2 separate regions of the Homo sapiens genome follow, and region 1 is linked to region 2. Evidence: fine-mapped expression QTL. A gene starts in region 2. The other region holds a variant in brackets. All regions are shown on one strand. Distances are between the middles of the regions. Region 1 overlaps SNAPC4 (small nuclear RNA activating complex polypeptide 4). Region 2 holds the start of CARD9 (caspase recruitment domain family member 9).

What was found. PIP is the estimated chance that this variant, and not a neighbour inherited with it, causes the effect.
Region 1: its variant is fine-mapped to the expression of CARD9 in whole blood (TOPMed, PIP 0.93).

Annotation. Positions count from the first base shown.
Region 1 is chr9:136,390,152-136,398,151 of GRCh38, forward strand. It overlaps SNAPC4 (small nuclear RNA activating complex polypeptide 4), which reads right to left. Exons shown (of 24, transcript NM_003086.4): 3 at 6,826-6,872; 4 at 5,452-5,619; 5 at 5,147-5,272; 6 at 4,649-4,727; 7 at 4,098-4,179; 8 at 2,522-2,626; 9 at 2,371-2,443; 10 at 1,791-1,955. Among named protein-coding and RNA genes, the nearest start is that of SNAPC4, 6.0 kb to the right of the region's middle. RefSeq lists an enhancer at 7,303-8,000. The variant G/A (reference allele first, on the strand shown) is at 3,812.
Region 2 is chr9:136,369,679-136,377,678 of GRCh38, forward strand. CARD9 (caspase recruitment domain family member 9) reads right to left here and starts at 3,991. Exons shown (of 13, transcript NM_052813.5): 1 at 3,854-3,991; 2 at 2,217-2,416; 3 at 1,646-1,783; 4 at 1,163-1,467; 5 at 844-1,023; 6 at 616-759; 7 at 72-197. The coding sequence starts at 2,400. SNAPC4 (small nuclear RNA activating complex polypeptide 4) reads right to left here. Exons shown (of 24, transcript NM_003086.4): 22 at 7,865-8,000; 23 at 6,671-6,803; 24 at 5,893-6,122. The coding sequence ends at 6,678. RefSeq lists enhancers at 3,859-4,153, 4,173-4,886.

The sequences.
Region 1 (8,000 bases), 20 kb after region 2:
CCCACCCTCCCACAAAGCCAGAGGCTGGTCAGGCGGGTGGGAAAGCAAAACCCAGCTGCACGCTGCTTTCATGAAAACACTTGGAAATGACGATTTGTTAAAAGGCTGAAAATACAGGGATGGGCCGGGCGCGGTGGCTCACGTCTGTAATCCCAGCACTTTGGGAGGCTGAGGCCGGCAGATCACAACGTCAGGAGACTGAGACCATCCTGGCTAACACAGTGAAACCCCGTCTCTACTAAAAATACAAAAAATTAGCCGGGCGTGGTGGTGGGCGCCTGTAGTCCCAGCTACTCGGGAGGCTGAGGCAGGAGAATGGCGTGAACCCGGGAGGCGGAGCTTGCGGTGAGCTGAGATCGTGCCACTGCACTCCAGCCTGGGCGACAGAGTGAGACTCTGTTTGAAAAAAAAAAAAAAAAAAAAAAAAGGAAAGAAAAAGAGCTAATGAGCTAACGCAAGCTGGGCTGAATCCCTGGGTGATGGGCTGATCTATGCAACAAACCACCATGGCACACGCTCACCTACGGAACCAAACTGCACATCCTGCACACACAGCCCTGAACTCAAAAAATATGAAAAACAAAAAAGAAAAAAAGAAAGCAGACCCCGATTAAAAAAAGTTATGTGTACCAAACTATGTAGCAGTAAAATATACATAGAAGAAAAACCGATTTGTATTTATTTATTTATTTTTTTTTTTTTTGAGACGGAGTCTTGCTGTCGCCCAGGCTGGAGTGCAGTGGCGCGACGTCCGCTCACCGCAAGCTCCGCCTCCCGGGTTCACGCCATTCTCCTGCCTCAGCCTCCCGAGTAGCTGGGACTACAGATGCCCGCCACCACGCCCGGCTAATTTTGTATTTTTAGTAGAGACGGGGTTTCTCCATGTTGGCCAGGCTGGTCTTGAACTCCCGACCTCAGGTGATCCGCCAGCCTCGGCCTCCCAAAGTGCTGGGATTACAGGGGTGAGCCACTGTGCCCGGCAGAATTAAGCATCTTTAAAGGCAAACTCAATTTAATAGCTGATATAGAGTAGGCCCTACTTACAGAGAACATACCTTTTTCTTAAAAACAGTTTTGGCAAGTTTAGCTGGGTCTGCTATAATCAGGTGCTCTGCCATAAAAAAGTAAAATATATTTGAAAAATGGAGATTTTATACATCTCGCCCCTAGTTCATGTTCCAATCAAATTCAGATAAAGAACCACCACAAGAACTCCCAGAAATCCAACTATTTAAAAACGGAAACATACACTCCTAGATACACCTAGGTCCAAAGAGGCAATAAAAATGGAAACTAGAGCTACTTTGGAAATCTATGAGAAGAAGAGTTCACGCCAAGCTACTCTCAGGGTGGCCTAACAAGCCTCGTTATCAAGACAAGAGACCCAAGTCAGTAAAGAACTGAGTCCTTACTCAGGAAACCAGAAAAGCGGCAAGAACTCACACGAGGAAAAAGCGCTTTAGAAACATCAACAGAATAAACTCCCGAGGCTGATGGAGACAGAAGAAGACTAGAAATAAGAAAGGAGACAAACTCCGGTAAACTGGGCATGCACCGCTGCATGGGGAGACCTGGAGGACTGGGAAGGCCCAGAGGAGCTGCGGCAATGGCCTAGTGGCAGAGAGGGCTGGGCAGGCTCCTTCCCTAGGGCCACAGCCTGGAGGTGGCAACACATAGAAACCTGGCGGTGAGTGAGCACTGGGGACCCCGCACCCGTCCAGCAGCCTCCCGCTATAGGGCCCACACGCCCTCAGGTCTCCTGGCCCCTGGGGTCCAGGCCAGGCCCTTACCCCCAGCTCCTCTGCAATCTTCTGCCACTCCAGGTGGCCGTGTGCAGCCGCGATCGCCTGCAGCCGCTCCTCCTCCTCCCTGCTCCACTCCTGCTTGTTGATGCTGGGGTGCTCCGAGTTCTGCCAGAACTTCCGGATCTCCTCTGCACTGCGGCTGCCTTCAAACTGCACCGACAGAGACACTCAGCCTTGCAGGCCACTGACCCCAGGGGCACCCTAGACGCAGCTCCAGGCTGAGCTGTTGCTCTCCGCCAGCTGGAGGCTTCCACGGCTGCAAGTAAGCGCAATCTTCGTCCAACTCACTAGGCCTTGCATAGCCAAACATGTAGACTTGGCTCCAGATGCAAGGCCGGGAGCCCTCCAGACCATCTCAGAAAGGGCCGTGCACCAGCCTGAAGGCCCTCGTGAGTCCACTCGCCATTCCCGACTGTGGGACATGTGCTTGACCCGGGTGGGTGGGGGGTCACAGCAGAACCTGTTGCCAGGGAGGGTGTGGCCTTACCACCCAATTCCAACTGCACCCGGGCTACAGGGAGCTGTGCTCCAAGCTGCTTGGGGCTCAGACCTGCCCCTGACTTACGTTAATATTGGAAATCTTCTCCCAGTCGTGGCTGTCCAGCCTGTTTCCCAGCAAGGCCTCTTCTGGAAGCTGGCTGGTGGAAGGGATGAGGGTATTGGCACCACGCCTGGCTTGTGGGCTCCCCTGGGCCCTCCCGGGAGGCCCCCCTCACTTGATGTCCTGGATCTCCTTCTCGGCTTCCCTGCCCTGCTTCTCCAGGGCTTGCCTCTCCAGCTCACTGGAGACTTTGCTCTGCTTCTGGTGCAAGTACTCGAGCCTGCAAAGCAGAGCAGAGGCAGAAGGGCTGGGGCACGAGGGCTGCGGGGCGGGGCAGGTTCTCTGCACATTACAGGGCAAGGAGTGTGAGCTCAGCAGAGATTCCGAGCCTCCCTCACCCTCCCTGCCTCGGCCTCCTCACCCATGAGGGAAGCTGTAGCACCCACCTCCAGGCTGCCACCGGGGTGGGAAGGGCTGCAGTGTCTGCTGACACAGAGGCTACCGCCTGCTGGCCCCCGTGTCTCAGAGCCTCGCCACAGCCCTCCGGAGCCTCAGTGCCCCAGCTCCCAGCCTGTGCCTGGCACAGAGACACAGCCGTAGGCAGATATCCTGACTGGTGCCCAGTGAGGAGGCCAGAGGCTGTGAGGCCACAGTAAAGAACCACTCCCCAGAGCAGGCCAGGGAGGAAAACCCAGCTCTCCCCGAGCCTGAGGAGAGACCCACCGTCATCACTGCAAACCCTGACCATGCACATCAGGCCACGGGGGGCAGGCGGGACCCGGGACCCCTGGCATGGCCAAAGCCCTCTCAGTGCCCAGAGATGCCCTGGCAGCTTGTATTCTAAAGGCACCCCCTCTGCCTTGAGAGCTCATGGTGGCCCCACAGAAGACAGATGGGGACCTGCTGTGCTGTTGAGTGGCCAACCAGGTGCTGCTGGGTCTCTGGGCTCTGGGAGCAGCTCTGTCTTTGACCAAAGTCATCAGGACAGCAGCGCCTTCTATCAAGTGCGGACAGTAAGGCTGTGCTGTGCCTTCTTTGGTCACGTGATTATCACCCCATCAGCAAACAGCAGGTTTCAGGAATGGGAAAGGGAAGCCCAGAGAAGCTGCCTGAACCACACCCCTCATCATGGCCGTGTGGACCGACCCCATGCCCCGAGCCACACCTCTCATCGTGGCCGTGTGGACCGACCCCGCGCCCCGAGCCACACCCCTCATCGTGGCTGTGTGGACTGATCCTGCGCTTAGCCGCCCGCCCGGCCATGGGGAAGCCCCCTTCATGGGGAAGGGGCATAAAGTCCAGGCATGAGCATCTCTCCATGGCCTGGCAAGACCCGCTGCAGAGAACGGGCATACAGCTAAGCTGAACCTCTGCCAAGCCCAAACCAACCAGCCTTGGCTTTTCCTGTTGGCCAGGAAAGGCTGTTGTGTTTGTTTTTGAGACAGGGTCTCGCTCTGTCACCCAG[G/A]CTGGAACGCAGTGGTACAATCATGGCTCACTGCAGCTTTGACCTCCTGGGATCAATCGATCCTCCCACCTCAGCCTCCCGAGTAGCTGGGACCACAGGTGTGCACCACCACACCCAGCTAATTTTTTTACTTTTTGAAGAGATGGGGTCTCACCATGTTGCCCAGGCTGGGCTTGAACTGGGTTCAAGAGATCCTCCTGCCTTGGCCTCCCAAAGTGCTGGGATTCCAGGCATGAGCCCTATGCCCAGCCTGAAGACCGTTTTTGACTTATGGTTTTAGACTTACTTCAGTAACTTGGGCTGAAGCAATCGCTGCAGGCGGTCACTCACCACTGACTTTCGGAGCAAGGCCTTTTCCCAGTTTTTCCCTGAGGAGAAGCCACAGCATCATCACTGGGGGTCTGGATCCTCTCCACGGCCCAGCCCCCACGGTTGGTGTGCACTTCCCGAGGCAGTGGTGGGGGGCCCCACAGCGAGTAAGCAGCACGCCAGACCTACTGACGTGGCCCCTCCACCCAGCTGACAGAGCTCCACCCGAGGCCTGGCGCCAGCTCACACGTAAAGCCACAGGGCTTTGCGGCCCAAGACAAGGGCGGGGAGACTGAGCCAGAGGGTGGGGTGCGGCCTGGCTAGCCCCTCGTGACTGGTGTTCTGGAAAGGACCTGCTCAGTGTGGAAAGGCAGGAGTCAAGGGGCCAGTCCCAGTGGTCAAGGCCTGAAGGAGCCATGAGGTCACAACAGAGAGAGGTCTGAGAACTTGGGGAGAAACTGGGGAAAGGAGGGCCATGGGGAGGTGTCCCAAGCTCAGGGGTGCCGCAGGGCCGGCCAGGGCTCTTACATTTGGTCACAAGGAGCTCCTCGAAAGCCTTGATCCCCTGGGCAGCCTTCTCTCGTGTGTCCTCGTTGGCAGGTGGCCCCTGTCAGGGTGCACGGCATCACCACAAGCACAGGCCACATGTGCTCCCTGCAGGCCCAGCACATCCCTCCAGAGCCCACAAAAGGACTCGGGCTCCCCCTGCCTCCTGTTCTCCCGTACTGTGAGGCTGTGGGGGTGCAACCCTGCCGGCCACTCCATGAAGCCTGATGAGGTCAGGCCTCGCACAGACAACACTGGCACCTCCACGAGGGCTTGCTCATCGCTTCACAGGGCAGTCCTGGCAGCCCAGCGCAGAGCAGAGGGCAGCTTGCCCACCACGGAGGAGGCAGTTTGAAGGAGGTTGGCCAATGTTATCTTGAACTCACAGGAATTCACGACTCCCTGCAGCAGGACTTGGGGACAAGAACCCTTCCCACGGTGCAGAGCCTTGCCGACAAGAGCAGGGCCTCGGCCACTCACCACGCCCGTGACCTTGTCCTTGAAATACGGCTTCATGAAGTGCCCCATGTATGTGCTTGGGGGCAGGCTTTTGCCATCTTTCACCTTGGTGCCTTTGGACCCAGCCAGATCCCTCATGAGTTCCTCCTGTGACAGACACAAGGCAGGGACCCCTCTATGGACCAGCAGCAATGACTCTCCCTGCGGAGGAGACCCGGGGCAGAGGAGAGGCAGGGAGCTGGGGAGCCCTGGACCTGGGAGGCCCAGCTGTGGGGGGCTCTGGGGGTGGGGAGGTGTGGGCACCGGGGGGCCGAGGCCCATCCCACCTGCTGCTCCCGGTTCTGGGCCAGCAGCAGGTTGGCCTCAGCCAGCTTCTCCTGGATGACCTCCTGGTAGACCATGTTCAGCTGCAGGCAGGTTTCTGGGTCTTCAGGGAGGGTTTTATCCTTGGGATCGTCCTCGTCATTGCTGGCTTCGCCCCACCTTTCTTCTTCCTGGTAACGAGCCAGAAATGGCATGTGACGAGATGAGACGTGGATGCTCCCCTGTCCTCGGCAGCCAGTCGCCCATCGCTGGGCCTCTGGGACACCGAGGCAGCTCTGGCATAGCAACACCCAATGTGGAAGCAGGAAGTGACCCTGGTGGGCAGCGGGAGGGCGTCTGAGTTTGGGAGTGGAGCCTGTCACTCTCAAGGCGGCCTGTGTGCGCCTTTCCTAATCCACGGCAGGCAGAGCCTCCAACCTGGAACACGCCAGGGCTGCGGCTGCTGCAAGGCAGCAGGCAGCTTTCCAGGACCACAGGCGTCCTGTGAACCCTGAACTCTGTCCTGAGCCCCTGTCGTGTGCATCACCAGCAAAGCACGGGGAGCAAGCCTGTGTGGGAGGAAAGTCTCTGCAGAGCCAGGAAGTGGACGCAGTGAAAATGCCCACTGGGAGGTGAGGTGCCCACAGGCTACAGCAGGGTGCTCACTCACAGAAGGTGAACCACACAGCCACGCAAACATGAGGAAACTCAGTACCCACTAACTTTGCAGAAAAAGGAAGCAGCAAATCGCCAACGTTTTCCAAAGTAAACAAAAGGCAGCTAATAAAATAATCACTGGCCTCACAGAGCAGTTGCCAGGTGCTGTTTGGGTGCTTGTGTATTTTTCTTTTTTTTGAGACAGGGTCTCACTCCATCACCCAGGCTGGAGTGCAGTGGTGCAATCACAGCTCACTGGAGCCTCGGCCTCCTGGGCTCAAGTGATCCTCCTGCCTCAGCCACCCAAGTAGCTGCGTCCACAGCCACGTGCCACTGCACCAGCTAATTTCTGTATAGCTGCTCGTGTTAACTGACTTGTGCTGTAAACGTCCCCGCTGCCCCACAGGAATCTGAGGCACAGAGAGGCGAGCTGTGAGGGGCAGGACGCAGGTGCACAACTCACAGCTTTCCGCAAGTGACAGATGCCACACAGGAGACAGAGGCATACAGCAATGAGCTCAGAAAAAACCCAAGGGGTGTGATCACCAAGCTGTTAACAGTGGTTATTTCTGGGGACAATTTCAATGACAAATGCTTTTTAATTTTTTTATAACAAACGTGAATCATTTTTATAATGCAGAAAAACCAATATGGGTTCAAACCACGCCCCCTCCCAGGCTACTTTGGAAGGTGGTGGCAGGCCTGACCCAGTGGCACAGCCAGATCAGGCCAACAGTTACCGAGATCGGGGGATCGGCAGGATCCAAGTCCTCAGAAGGCAGTGAATCTGTCAGAAACACAAGCAACACCGTGTTGGTAACCAGCGTCTTGGGCAGGGTGGGGGCGCAGCTCACCACTGCTTCTTGGGCAGACCTGGGGTTGTGAGGTAGTGACAGCGCCTCAGGCTGAGGCTGGCGGTGAGCGGACCTTCCCTCCCTGACAGCGGGGTGGGCACTGGACCAAGGCCGGGTTAGCCAGATAGAGAAAACTCTGACCACACACTGGGGACCTCCAGGCACACAGGACAAAGCTACACAGGGTTCACTGGATGGCACAAGCTATCTTTACTGGAGAGACAGGGAAAGTTTAGCAGAAAACGGACCTCTCCTTCAGGAGCTTAGCCGGTCAGATGGGAGGCACGGATGTAGAGGCCCTCACCACAGGAGAAAGATAGCAGGTTGCCTCAGAGGCAGGCCCTGGGTCTGGGAGAGGTGGGAAGCAAGGCTGGGGGGGTCTCCTGTCAGGGCAGCAGCTGGTGGGGTTGGGGTAGGCTCAGAAGCTAAAGGGAGCATGGAGGAGAGCATGTGGGGAGGGGAGCATGTTGGGAGGAGAGGCTGTGGGGTGGGGAGCCTATGGGGTGGGGAGCACATGGGGAGGGGAGCACGTGGGGTGGGGAGCACGTGGGGAGGGGAGCACGTGGGGAGGGGAGCACGTGGGGAGGGGAGCACGTGGGGTGGGGAGCACGTGGGGTGGGGAGCACGTGGGGAGGAGAGCACTTGGGGTGGGGAGCACGTGGGGAGGGGCACATGTGAGAAGAAGAGATCCTAGGGGTGTGAGCTGTGTTGACCATCCAGGCATGGACTGTCCAGACTGCCATCTGGTGAGGTTCAGGCCTGCCCCCTCCTCCCAGGATGGTCCACTCCAGAAGCCCTGCACAGGCCCAAGGAGGCCAGGCCCAGACCCTGGGATGCCTAGAGCCCAGTGTACACACACAGCCAGCTGGTTCAGGGGCTAGCAAAGGAGGAATTGTCAGAAGCTCTCTGGCTGGAGTACAGAAAGACACCAGTGTTGGCAAAAAATTGGGTCTGGTCCAAGCAGCACCAGCCATCGTTTATTATTATTATTATTATTTTTAGAGACAGGGTCTTGCTGCGTTGTCCAGGCTGGACATGAACTCCTGGGATCAAACAATGCT
Region 2 (8,000 bases):
CCTCAAGGGCCGTGGCCCTGGTGCACCCACCCGCGAGTGGGGTGCTTTGTCCTGCCCCTGCGAGTGCCCACCTGGTCCCGCTCAATGGCGACCTCCTCCATCTGCAGCAGGATGGCCTCGATGCGGTCCTTGTACATCTTGGAGTCCTTACGTAGTGCCAGGCACTGCAGCTCGAACATCTCCTTCTCCTCCATGCACTGCAGGGGGCGGCAGCTCAGCCCCCACAGGCCTGAGGCCCCCCATTCTGGCCCTTGGGGTATACTCCGGGCAGGGGCTCAGAAGCATGTGGTCAGGCCAGTTGGGATGTCGGGGGAGGCCATAGGAGTCCCCAGGCCCCTACCAGCCCTGCACTTCCAGACCGCGGCAGGACAGGGCCCTCCGGCAGGCCTCAGACACTGCTGTGCCTCAGGCACCATGAGCCCAGAGGTTGGCCTTTGCCATGGGGGGCAGGCGGGCAAGGAGAGGGCACCGTCCACTGTGCCTCCAGGAGTGGGTGAGTGGAGGCGCTGCACTGGGGTCTCCACACCCCACCTTCCAGGCACGGAGTGGGCGGAGCTCAGCCCGTCCAGCCTGGCTTGGACCCCAGGGGCCATGTCTCCCCGCCTGCCCTCCTACCCGGAGGCGTCGGGCCTCGCCCTGGCGGAGGTCCTTGCGCAGGGAGAAGATGGTGTTGGCCTGCTCCTGGTGGTCCCGCAGCGCCTGCCGCCAGTCCTCCTCCAGTACCTGGATGTAGGGGCTGCTCCTGTCCAGCTTCCCCTCCTGAAGGGGGCAAAAGGCAATGGCCTGGCTGGGAAGGCCCCCACTGCCCTGCCTGGGCTGCACCTGCCCTGCCTACGGCCCCACCTGGACGGAGGCCTCCAGCTCCTGCACCCGGGCCTGGAGCAGGGCCTTCTCCTGCTGCAGCTCCCACAGCAGCTCCTGGCTGGGCCGCTGCTCCATGGCGTGCCTGAGCTTCAGCGTGTGCTTGCGCTCCACCTTGCAGTCGTCCTCGGCCTTCATGAGGCTGTGCTTGAGCTGGTCAATCTGCAGAAGGTCCAGTGAGCCTGGCTGTCCCCTCCAGGCGGTGACCGCAGACCCGTGGGGCCACCCCCGACCGCCCCGGCCTGCAGACCCCGCCAGGCCAGGCGAGGGTGGCCTGGTTTCCCGGGGGCAGCGGGCGCACCTCCAGCTGCAGGTCACGGTTCCGCATGAGCGCGGCGCCCTTCTCCTCACTCTGGTGCGCCAGGCGCATGGCCAGGTCGTAGTTCTCCTCCTTGCAGCGCTTGAGCTCGCGGCTGCCGGCCTCGCACTCCTCCTTGAGCCTCTGCACACGCTCCTGGTGCTTGCGCAGCAGGCTGTCCTTCACCCGCAGCTCCTTGATGAAGTCATCTTTGGAGCTCAGCAGCGCGGTCAGGTCCTGCACCTTCTTCTGCAGCTTCATGACCTCAGTCATCAGCAGCTGAGTCAGGCCTGACTCCCCGGACGCGTCTGTGGGCCAGGCCAGTGTCAGATGGTGCCGTGTTCCCCGGTGGCCCAGCTCCATCACGCCCTGCGCTGTGGCAGGAGCTCAGGGCTCCTAGGGATGGGGGCCAGGCAGAGGACCCAACACCACTGCCCGCTCCCCGCCAGCGCCTCCCCTGTCGGCCCCGCCTCCCCCGTCACTCACCGATGATCATGGAGAAGACGCGGGCCGGCTCCTTGCCTGTGACCTTCTTGTACAGCTGCGGGTAGTAGAGCTCCAGGCTCTCGAGGAAGGCCACGTAGCCCTTGTGGCCGGTCCGCTGCAGGATGTCCAGGAGCACACCTGCGGGCCAGAGAGGCCTAACTGGGGGCGGGGCACAGGCGAGGCAGAGGGCTGGGGTGGGTGGGCCTGGGGGCAGGGACAGGTGGAGGCTGGCATGCAGATGAGGTGTGCCGTGGTCTGGGTCTTGGATGAGGTACCCTGCGGGTCTTGGTACTAGGCTGGGGACCAAGTGCTGCCCACCCGCCCCTTGGCTGTCTCAGGAGCCCCCGCTGCGGTGGGAGCCCCGCTGCCCCTCTTGGCAGCACCAAGCCGGCAGGAGAGGCTGGGGGACGGGCCACGTGCCAGGGTTGAGGTTGGGCCTCAGTCAGAGGCCAGGGGCAAAGCCAGGCGGGGCTCTCCTGGGGTTGAGGGTCAGGGTGGCAGAGCGTGCAGCCACCTCCGAGCTGACTCTGTGGTTGGGTTTGGGGCCTGGGGCCCGCGGGGCAACACTGACCCACTTTCCGTTTGCGGATGACCAGGTTGGGGTCGCTGAGCACCTGCTCCTCATCATCGGGGTTCAGGACCTTGCACTGCCGCAGGTAAGGTGTGATGCGTGAGGGGTCGATGACCGAGGTGAGCGTCACCCGGAAGCCCTCCAGGACGCTCCAGCACTCGTCATCGTTCTCGTAGTCCGACATGGCCTCAGCAGGCAGGCTGGGGAGTGTGGGGCAGTGCTGAGAGCGATGCCGGCTCCTGCCCCCACCCGGGCCCAGCTCCCACTCCTTCTCAGACGCTGGGCCAGGGCTCTCGTCAGGGCATCGAGGGGGATCAGCCCAGGGGCATCCAGGAGAGGTGCCCAGCTCCATGTCCCATCCCCACGCTGGATCCCCCAGGGAGGCAGCAGAGACACAGTGACCCCGCTCCCCACCAGACCAGCCGAGGGCCCCTCCGCAGCCTTTCCCAGCCCTTGCTCCTGCCCGTTGGCATCCATGTCACCCAGATACGCAGCGGGGGAGGCACAGATGGGGTCTGAGAGAGGAACTCCCCCTACAGCATGACCCCCTCTGGCCTCTGCCTCCTGGACACTCCCATCACGCCCTGGAGCCTGCAAGGTTAGCCACCTCCATGGCTGGAATGGGCAGAGGAGCTGAGGGCAACTGCCTGGCACTATGGCCAGCCCAAGCTGGGTGAGAGCAGGTTGGCCAGTGGCCCTCCCACCAGCACAGCAGCTGGGGGAGCCGGTTCTTGTGGGACTTCCTCATTCCCCTGACCGACGCCTGCTCACATCCCTGGCTGTGCCCTCCCTCCTCCACGGCCGGCTGCTGATGATGCAAGAGTGGCCACCCAGCCCTGCTGCAGCTGCGGGGTCGCTGCACTGGCCGGGAAGAGCTGCCCACAGGAGCGTGTCTCTGTCACCCCCTGCCGGCCCCGCAACCCTGGGAGGGGCTGTCAGTGTTGCCCTTGGCTGGCCAGGAGTGCTGCTGCGGTGTTTTCTCCAGGTTGAGGTGCCGGGCACCAGTGAATCCCTGGACTCTTCTCCTGCCCCAGATGAGGCCCGGCCCCCATCCCAGTGGCTGCAACAGAACTACCCATGTTGGGACCAGCCACTGCTGTCCCTTTCTGCCAGCATGGTGGGGGCCTCAGCCGCTGAAAGCCACTCCCTCTGAGACTGGGACTGCGGCAAGGCTGGGAGCAGCCACGTGGTCCTCAGACAGCCTCCAGCCCCGCTGGGAAACGCTGGTTTCCAGCCCAGAGGAGCTGGGTCACTGCTCCTGGAGACATAGTTGCCCCAGGCTTGGTCTTTTGAGGCATTTCTCAACTTCCCGCTGCACTTTGTCACCCCATTCAGGACAGTTTTGACAGACAAGGGACTGAATAAAAACACTGGCCACACGGTAGACAGTCCTGGGAACACTGGGCCCCTTTCCTGCTTCCCCAGCTTGAAATGCAGGGTCCCATCTGCCACCGTAATTCCACTGAAATGAACACATCTCCGCCCAGGGGCCGTGAAAGGGACGGGGCCGCATGGCGGAGGCTGCCTGGCTGCCTGTGGGAAGCCTCAGGCTGCTCTGGGGGATCAGTGCCAGGATCCTGAACTAGGCCAACGCCAACCTTCCTGGCCACCTTTCAGAAAGCACCAGACCCACCCACCTGAGGGTCTTCCAGGAGCCACCTGCACTGCAGACACACCAGGAGCCTGGGCCGCGGAGCCTCTGGGAGATGCTGCCCGGGGCTGCAGGGAGGGAGGAGCACGCCGGACGCCTGTGCACTTCCTGATGGGTTCTGCTTAACTCCACAGTCCCGCCAGTCCTCCCACAGGGGGACAGTCCCTGGTGACCTGCTTTCTGATTCGCCCAGCCCAGGAGGCCCCAAGAGGCAGACGGAAGTGGAAGTCCGCTGCCCTCCAGAGGAAAGCTGCTCCCAGCCCTCCCAGCCTGGCCGGGGGCTGGGGGTCCTGGGGATGCCCCAGAGGCCCAGCCCTGGCACCTGGCAAGTAGAAGAGACAGCAGAGACCCCCAGGGGGCTGGACAAGGCCAGCCCGCACCCAGCCACTTTGACCTGGTCACAGGCTTCTGGAGACTTCTTCAGTAAGGCATGCTTTGCTCTGTGCGAACACCCTCGCCCTCGCCAGCATCTCAGGACAGCGGGGCAGGGCATGTGCAGGGGGGCACACAGCCACACGGCATGGCCAGCACACGCCTTGGTCACAGAAGGGCTGCAGCCCACCTTATGGAGCCCAGGAGGCCACAGCAGCCTGCCAGGGGCCATGGCATCGGCCACCACCCAGCTGCACACGGGGGAGAAACGTCCCTTCCAGAAGTGTCGTTATCCTCGTTATCCCCATCATGAGGCATCCCTGCTCTCCACCAGGATGCATGTGAGGACTGAGGCCACTCTCGGGGTCCCCCAAACCAGCTTCAGAAGAGCCGGTGACAGCAGGGCACAGCTCGGCCCCCATCCAGGGACAACGGACAGCAGAGTCTGCCCTGAACTGTGCACTTCAGCGTGTGGGCTGCCAGAGCCTCATCCCTGCAGGCTTGGGAACCCCCAGGCCCCGCCTCACCCGGTAAAGCTGGTTGAACTGAGTTGCCACCCAACAGGTTCGAGAAGGGGCCGCCAGGCTGGAAGGCAAGGAAGCTGGTGTGGAGCTTGCCTAACCGTTCTCAGCCTCCAGCCCTCAGGCCTCTGTGCGGACAACGTCTGACATCACACATTAAGGAGCGGACAGTTAGGGGTCCTCCTGGGCTCTCGGGAATGCCACATTCCAGGGGGCCGTGCCCCTGCTGGACCCCTCACCATCAACATGAGCGAGTGTGCAGGCCGGGGCCATCCTGGGCCCTGCCAGGGAGCGAACCGGAGCTGGCACCAGGCCCTCATGACCCAGTGTTTCCCCAGCGTTTAAAACGCGGACCTTAGTGACTTCCCTGTGGTGTGTGTCCTTAGGAGTGAACACACATACCATGTTCTCTAACCATATCGGAAGCTAAAAATCGGTAACAGATATCGGCAAAATCTCTAAATATTTGGAAATTAAATAATATACCGCTAAATAACCCACAGATCAGAGTGGCCCCCAGACTAGGCACCAGACTAGAGAACCAGGCACAGCAACACATACTCAGGAGTGAGGTCGGCCATGGGACCGTCCCGTCTGCCAGGTGCCCAGGGCTGAGGCCCCACAGTGGCTCCAGTGAAGGATCGAAGCCCAGATAGCCAAGGGCCTGGGGGCGCTGCTGCCACAGAGACAAAGGAAAGGGAGCTAGGGGACAGACGGAGAAGATGGGGGCTAGTCTTATGCCAATAAAGGCCCATGCAAAAGGAACAGTGGAGGGTGGGGGCTGCCGCCGTGTCGGGGTAGCCAGGTCATCTGTTCCAGGGAACCCCCTGGGTCAGCCAGGGCAGCGCGAGGGCTGGCAGCCATCTGGGGAGGGTGCCGGCTAGCCTGAAGGACAAAGCCACAGATGCTTTCCAGGAAATGGGCGAAAGAAAGCCTGCTTCTCTGACAGGAGGGCAGCCGGGGTACGGGAGGCCTTCCAGGACCCCAGCTCTGGGCCCCCAGCACCCTGCTTGTTCCCGAACTGCCTGCACTAGGGTGGCTCAGCCACTAGGCAGCAGCCTGACCCCAGCCAGGTGGGGGGTCCCTGTACACTGCCCGGTACCTCAGGACAACAAAACCACAACAGCCTGTGTCCAGCTCCACAATTAAAAACAGAACTTTATTCCTCCAAGTGTTCAGGTGTGCACTTGGGGAACAGCCATGCTCCATGCCACACAGTCAGTCGGCAGGCCCGCCTCTGTTCACTGCGGACCTGGTCAGTCAGCGGCCAGCAGATACCTGGCCTCTGGCTGCCTCTCTTGCAGGCTGGGGGTGGGCTGTCTCTCGTCAGCAGGGCCACGGGCTTCTGAGAAAGTGCTTGTCCTGGAACACAGGAACACCAGGTGGGGGGTGCCCTTGACCCCAGCCAGACCCCAAGCAGGGCTGGGACAGACAAACAGGAACCAAGACCACCCCAGCGCCGGCCACGCCCAGTCTGCTTGGTAAACCTGACCCACATGCGCCAAGGGCCAGGCCAGGGCACCAGGGCTCCAGCAGTGAAGAGCCAGCCTGGTGGCTGCGGTTGGGGATGGTGATCGTTTTACAAGCTGGGAGACGACGCAGCAATGCACGGGAACAGGGCACCACCAGAGCACAGCGGCCAGGGAGGAGCCCAGACCCCAAAGGCAGGGAATGAGCCTATGGTCAGGGGCACAGTGGTGCCAAGGCCCGAGGCATGGGTGGCCAGCAGGAAGGATGTGGGTTAAATGCTTCTCCCCCTGGAGGGCCTCCATGACCCTGGACCTGCCCACCTAACCCAGCACACCTGCTGTGAGCGCCAAAGAGCCGAGCAGAGGCCAAGGCCCCCTGCCATCTGGACACCACTCTGTCCCCTGGGTTGTAGGGCAGTGGCCTCCCCACTCAGGACTCACCTGCTGCTCACACCAGCCGCCTCCGCTTCCGGGTGTGCCTGGCATGCCGGGTTCTGAGCACGTCCAGGTCGTCAGGGTCATTAGAAGTATCCAGGCAGGAGGAAGCAGAGCATTTACCAGAGTCTGGGGCTCCCTGAAAGAAAATCCAGGCAGTGGGGACAAGAGTGACACCCCCGAGCCATGATGGACGGGGAAGGGACGGGAGTGAGGAGGGGCCCTGTGGGTGAGTGTCCCACTTGGGACAGGGCACCCTCAGCTCAGGCGGGAGCTGCTCCAGGCACTCCTGGGGCCACACGTGACTGTGCACTCCCTCCCTCGGGGGCTCTGACCCCATCCAAGCCATCCCTCTGGTGGGCCTCCCACTCCCCCATGGGACAGCCATCACACCCAGGCAGGGCAGGAGGCTGTACATGGATGGGGCACAGAGGGCCTCTTCCCCTGGCTGGCCGGGGTCCTCCCCAACTCTTGGACATTGCTTCCTCCCACACTTCAGCCCAGGGACTTGCGAGACACAACCCTGGGGAGAGATGGAAGGCCCTCTGCCACACTCCCTATGACAGGCCCACAGGTCCAGCTGAGGCTGCCTGCTTCTGGTGGTTTCTCAGGGAGGCCAGCCTCCCAGCTGCTGCAAGTGGGCACCCTGGCACCAGGGGAGGAGGCCTCTCTGGGGGCCCCAGCTCCACATGCTTTCCAGGGTTCCAAACATGGTTTCACCTACAGAGATTGGAAAACTCTCCCCAAGGACACTCAGAGAGGTGACAGCAGAGAGGGACCTTTGGGACCCCAGAAATCCAGAGACAAACACAGCCACCACCCTCCACTGTGCCCATGGCCCACCCTGGGAGCACACGTGTGTGTGGCGTGTGCGGCTCAGAGCCGGGTCAGCGTCCATCCCAGAGCTTCTCGCTCAGACAAGGCCACCTGGCTGGGCAGCATCAGGATGGCCGGAGGCTCCTGCACGAGAATGAGGCCTCTCTTCTCCCCTTTTCCACACTGCCCCAAAGGGAGGCCACTTCTGCAGAATCTACACGCAACTGGGCAGGCCAGGAACCAGCTTCCTCCTCCTAAGACACCCAGCAGCCAGCCTTCCTGCCCGCAACTTCCACCAGCCCCCACCCCACTGCTCCAGGCAGGCGAGGGCACCCCAGGGACCGCCGCCTGCCATGGGGAAGTGGGGCTGGGCGCCCACCCTACCTGAATGGGGCATGTGGCTGTCGTGCAGCCCGGCTGCCCGTCCCTGTCTGCAAGTTCCAGCTCACTCAGGAGGTCTTCATCCTCACTCTCAGAGCCCACCCTCGAAGGTACTGAGAGGGTGGTGCGGACGCCTTGG